Linked DNA regions of Homo sapiens: region 1 is linked to region 2. The links come from fine-mapping of genetic effects on gene expression. Tissue or cell type: whole blood. Region 2 holds a variant in brackets; the other region holds the start of a gene. All regions are shown on one strand. Distances are between the middles of the regions. Region 1 holds the start of PIMREG (PICALM interacting mitotic regulator). Region 2 overlaps PITPNM3 (PITPNM family member 3).

What was found. PIP is the estimated chance that this variant, and not a neighbour inherited with it, causes the effect.
Region 1: PIMREG starts here. The variant in region 2 is the best candidate, but not a certain one, in a credible set for the expression of PIMREG in whole blood (TOPMed, PIP 0.75).

Annotation. Positions count from the first base shown.
Region 1 is chr17:6,442,930-6,445,831 of GRCh38, reverse strand. It overlaps PIMREG (PICALM interacting mitotic regulator), which reads right to left and starts at 1,377. Exons shown (of 6, transcript NM_019013.3): 1 at 1,344-1,377; 2 at 428-756. The coding sequence starts at 721. The region is part of intron 2 of LOC107985017 (a long non-coding RNA gene); the gene reads left to right. RefSeq lists silencers at 1,128-1,355, 1,438-1,687, 1,918-2,067 and an enhancer at 1,419-1,997.
Region 2 is chr17:6,464,180-6,467,081 of GRCh38, reverse strand. PITPNM3 (PITPNM family member 3) reads left to right here. Exons shown (of 20, transcript NM_031220.4): 15 at 2,311-2,427; 16 at 2,764-2,902. Among named protein-coding and RNA genes, the nearest start is that of PIMREG, 21 kb to the right of the region's middle. RefSeq lists enhancers at 2,284-2,835, 2,836-2,902. The variant A/G (reference allele first, on the strand shown) is at 1,327.

The sequences.
Region 1 (2,902 bases), 21 kb after region 2:
CACCTTGCTTTCCCTCAGCTCTAGGCCTGGACTTGCACTATTTCCCCTACCCTAAATACCCCTTGACCTTTGCTTCCCTGGGTGAACTCTGGAATCACCTCCTCTGGGAAGCCTTCACCGACTAAGCTTGCATTTGGTGAGCCTCACTATTGGTCACTTGCTTTGCAATTTCCTATCACGTACAGCTCTTATCACCTGGTATTGTGAGCATCTGTTTCCTCCAAGACATGCTTTCATTCACTCATTCAACTATTTGTTGAGCACCTATATGTGCCAGGAACTATCTGGGGTGGTGGGGAAACAGCAGTGAACTAACCAACGTCCCTGTTTTCATGAAGTCTATATTCTTGAGGCTCTTTGAGGGCAGGAACTGCCTGGCACCAAGGAAACACTCCATAAAAAAGATGATTAGTGTTGTCAGTATTACCTGGGACACGGCACCCAAAGCACTCTTAGCTGAGCGAGCTGCAGCCTGGAGGCCCTGCTGACCTGGCTCTGGGGTTTCCAGGCGTTTCCAGGAGGGCCCTGCGCGGAGGTTGAGGTTGACGGCTCTCAGGGGCAGCCTCCTTTGGAACTGTCTGCACAGGGACCCCAGGGCCCCTACAGAGGTCTCCTGATGGCTGACCACAGGCTGCAGCTCCTTGCTGTCCTCCAGCTGCTCCTGGTGCTGGAGAGATCTCCGGCGCACGGAGGTCCCCATGTTCTGCCACCGAGAAGCCATCTGCCTGGCCAAGAGTCTTCTCTGTCCACTAGACCCTGGGGAGGAGGGCGAAAGGCAGATCAGCAAGGCATTCCCCATACCCATTCCCAGGCCCCACAGAGACCCTGGACACAGGGGAAGAGACGGGATGCAGCGGGGTGGCGGGGGCGGGCGAGTTGGTAAGTGTGGGTGCAGGAAGGAGGATGCTTCCTGGAAGAGGGGCCTCGGGTCAGCAGCATTTCTGATGTCCCGCCCTTCAAGTTTCCAAAACAGCTGTCTTTTCATCCCAACCTCCTTCCTCTCTCTGGCTCAGGCGAGGAGGGGAGGCAGGGTCAAGACACGCCGTAGCCGAGCTTCAGCGCTGGGCCCAGGACACGATCACCATCTTCTTCACCAGCTCGCCCAGACCAAACGCGCACCCGCCCAGACCCCGGCCTTCCCACCAGACGCCCCGATTTCGATCCGACTTCTTGTGGTACCCAGACGACCCCACAGGCCGTGCGTGTCCGAACCTGATGCCCTCCCCTGTGAACAGAACCTGATGCCCTCCCCTCCGAACAAAAAAATTGTTTTGAGTCCAGATCGCGCCATTGCACTCCAGCCTGGGCAACAAGGGCGAAACTTGTGCCCAGCCCGCACTCACCCGACACCACTAAGGCCGAGCACAGCCGCAGCACAGCTGCTCCTCGCCCACCGCAGCCGATTTGAAACTCTGCGCGGCTCCGCCCCCGGCCCCGTCCTCACAGCTGATTGGTTCCGTCCCCGCCCCCGCCACCGCCACCGCCCCGGGGATCCGATTGGCTCCCTCTCTCGCGGCTGCAAATGCTGCGCTTGGATTGGCCCGGCCGTGCCCATTCATCGCTCCGGCCCCCGCCCCGCCGCCAGCCTCGTGGCTCCGGGCTTTGTATCCTGCGTCCCGCTCGCGCCACTGCCCTTGCTAGCCCAGCCCCCGCGCATCGCACACCGGGTCCCCTCCCTGGAGCGCGCACAGGGTTCAGGCTGCTCTGACCCATGGGGTGGAGGCGGAGGTCCTGGGACCTAGGCCTCCTGGCTCAGGCCCCAGGCCCCAGGCCCGGCAGCGGGCAGAGACCCCTCTCATCCTGCCAAGGGGTCTGGCTTTTCCTTCTTGCTCAGTGGTTTTGTCAGAAGGAGCCAGGGACTGGCAGTGCAGAGCCCTGGGTTCCCAGAGACGTTTTCTTTCAAATTTCCCTCCTGACCCTCCCTTCCTGTGACAAGACACTGTCCCTCTCTGAGTTCCCCATACTCGCCATCCACGCTCCGCCCTCCCTAGAAAACGCGTCCCGGAAGCGGGGATAGACCAGAGTACCGGTCTGCCCTCCACCCGTCTACACCGGCTCCCCGCCCCCGCCTTGCCCCACGCATCCCTCCCTCTCTCCAGCGGAATGCCTGCCTCTCTTCTCCTTAGCATCCAAACAAATGCAGCCATTATAAAGCTCTCTCCAGCTCATCTTTCTCCTTTCGGTGACCTCAGAGCAGTGCTGCCCACTCCCCCGGCTGGTTTCTTTGTTACTTCTCCGCACAAGAGCCTGAGATGATGGCTTCTTGAGACTCTGTCTTCAGCCCTCTCCGTTTCTGGGTGGTCTCACCCACTCCTTTGGCCTCAGTGATTTCCAAGGAAAGGATGATGATAATGATTAACGTGTATATGGCACTTAGTATGCACAGGTACCGGTGTTGCAGTTTATTAACTTACTTGATCCTCTGCTATGGTTTGAATGTGTCCCTCAAATTTCACATGTTGGAAATGTAATGCCCAAATTCATATATCGGTGGCATTTTTTGTTTGTTTTTGAGACGGAATTTCACTCTTGTTGCCCAGGCTGGAGTGCAATGGCATGATCTCGGCTCACTGCAACCTCCGCCTCCCAGGTTCAAGCGATTCTCCTGCCTCAGCCTCCCTAGTAGCTGGGATTACAGGTGCCTGCCACCACGCCTAGCTAATTTTTTGTATTTTTAGTAGAGATGGGGTTTCACTATGTTGGCCAGGCTGGTCTCGAACTCCTGACCTTAGGCAATCCACCCGCCTCAGCCTCCCAAACTGCTGGGATTACAGACGTGAGCCACCGTTCCTGGCTATCGGTGGCATTTTTTAAGACATATAAATTGTTATTTATTCAAATTATAGAATATTATACAGCACTGAAAAATAAGCAAATTGTAGCCAGATGGTGTAACTTAAGT
Region 2 (2,902 bases):
GGTTTTTTTTTTTTGTTTTGAGACGGAGTCTTGTTCTGTCGCCCAGGCTGGAGTGCAGTGGTGCAATCTCAACTCACTGTAACCTCCCCTCCCTGGTTCAAGTGATTCTTCTACCTCAGCCTCCCAAGTAGCTGGGATTACAGGTGTTCACCACCATGCCCGGCTAATTATTTTATTTTATTTTATTTTTTGTATTTTTAGTAGAGATGGAGTTTCGCCATGTTGGCCAGGCTGGTGTTTTCACCTTTCGGCTACTATGAATAATGCTGCTATGAACGTCCATGTATAAGTTTTTGTGTTTTTCATTTCTCCTGTGTTTTCATTTCTCTCGGGTAGATGCCTAGAAGTGCAATTTCTGTATCAAATGTTAACTCTATGGTTAATCATATAGGGAACTGCCAGACTGTTTTCCACAGTGACTGTACCATTTCACATTCCCACTGCAATGTATGAGGATTCTGATTTCTCCGCATCTTCAGCAACCCCTGTTATTATCTGTCTGTTTGATTCTAGTCATCCCGGTGGGTGTGACGGGGTATTTCATTGTGGTTTTGATTGCATTTCTCTAATGACTCGGGATGCCGGATCTTTTCAGGTGCTTATATTCATGAACCAGCTGCTCCCTCTCCCCTGACAGTGCACCTGTAAGGGGGCCTGCGTTCCCTACTTGGCTGAGTGTCTCCAGGGCAGGGCCCACGACTAGTTTATCTCAGGGACCCCATGCAGATGAGGTGTCTGCAGATATTTGTTGGATTGAATTAAAATGCATGGGAATTGAAAGGAGGTTGAGAACCTGTCTTTGAGGAGTCCGAGGAGTGTTTCTTGGCGATGATGGCGCTGAGTCTAGTCATAGCGAATGGGCTGGAATGTGGGGGAAGAGGGCCAGGGCCAGGGATGGCACCTAGAGCCAGTGTGGGGGGCGGGACAGCGGTGTGAGCAAAGGCCTGGAGGCTGCTGCAGAGCCTGGCAGAAAGGACCAGAAGGTGTGGATGGGGAGCAGCAGGAGACAGACTGAAGAGGTCGTTCAGGCAAGCCTTGGAAAGCTAAGCTCAGGTTCCGGACTCTACGCAGAGGGCAGTGGGGAGCCCGGGAGGGTGTTAGTAGAGCTGTGCTTTATAGAGACAGAGGATCTGTTGCAGGGACTGCCTTTGAGGAAGGAGCTCCATTAGGGAGCTGTTAGCAGCATCCAGGCGATGTGGCTGTGCGAGAGATGAAGATGTGGCCAGTGCGGTAAAGGAGTGGTCACTAGATGGAGAGACTGGGGTCTTGGAGGCCAGGCTGGGAGTGGGGGCTGGTCAGGGCCAACACAGGCTGCAGAATGAACTG[A/G]AACCAGTTCATTGATAAATGAAGAAAAATAGGGAGGTTGAGACAGTCACAGATAAAATGACGCAGCGTCCAGGATTGCTCCAGGATAATCCCGGTGGGGCTGGGGCCGAGGCTGGGGAATTGGGCAAGGGAAGAACGAAACCAGGATGGCCACGAGTTTGTTGCTAAGTGGTGGAGCAGGTGCTGGGAACACGAGGCTTTGTTACACTCTTCTCTCTCTCTATGCTTGTGCATTTGAAATTTTATCTTAAAAAAAAAGACAGATAGTAAATACTGTTGGATGTGAGCTGTGATGTAGAAGAAAGAACCAAAAGTGACCAGGCAGTTTCCAGCCCGGGGATCTGGAAGATAAGCACAGGCTGTGAGGCCAGTTGTCCCCTCAGGGCCGAGCAGAGTCAAAACAGAGAACGGGCCAGGCACGGTGGCTCATGCCTATAATCCCAGCACTTTGGGAGTCCGAGGTAGGCAGATCACCTGAGGTCGGGAGTTCGAGACCAGCCTGATCAACACGGAGAAACCCCATCTCTACTAAAAATATGACATTAGCCAGGTGTGGAGGCGCATGCCTGTAATCCCAGCTACGCAGGAGGCTGAGGCAGGAGAATTGCTTGAACCCGGGAGGTTGCGGTGAGCCGAGATTGCGCCATTGCACTCCAGCCTGGGCAACAAGAGCAAAACTCCTTCTCAAAAACAAAAAACAAAAAACAAAACAAACAAACAATCAATCAAACAAAAAACACGAAAGCAGAAAACGTACAATGGCAGGAAGCCCTGTGCACCTTGAAGACAGCGTTTGGGGGACTCACGGTCTGTTTTTCTCACACGTTCCCTGGGAACACATCTCTGAAACTCTAGCAGAAGTTAGTAGAGAGACATGATTCAGCAAGCTGATATGCCTCCAGCCAGTCTGAGGAACACTGCAATGATAAAGCAAGGTTGAGCCTCCCTTGCAAGGGCTGAGCCAGCTTCTTTCTGTCCTTCCAGAATGTCACGGCTAATCACCGGGCCAATGATGTGATTGCTGCTGAAGATGGCCCCCAGGTCCTGGTGGGGCGGTTCATGTACGGGCCCCTCGACATGGTGGCTCTGACTGGAGAGAAGGTACCTGGGGCTGGGCCTCCCCTCCTCAGCCACTCCACCTGCACCAGGTGCCTCATGGAGCCACATAGCGTGTGGGGTGAGGGTGTCAAGAGGGCCGAGCTGCCTGGGGTGGAAGCACAGGGCCAGGAGCTACCCACCTGCTTGGGCGGGCCGGGAAGGGTGAGCAAGGAGGAAAGGATGGGCTCAGAGTATCCAAGGACAAATGAGGAGCCAGGCTGGCAGGAGCCAGGGAATGTCAGGCAGGGACCTCAGCCCAGAGTTCCCCCGCCCAGCCCCTCTGCCAAGCCTGTAGCCCCTCAGCCTTCAGGGAGTCCCTGACCCCCTTCACTGCCGCAGGTGGACATCCTAGTAATGGCAGAGCCATCCTCAGGCCGCTGGGTACACCTGGACACAGAGATCACCAACAGCAGTGGTCGCATCACATACAATGTGCCGCGGCCCCGGCGCCTGGGGGTTGGTGTCTATCCTGTGAAGA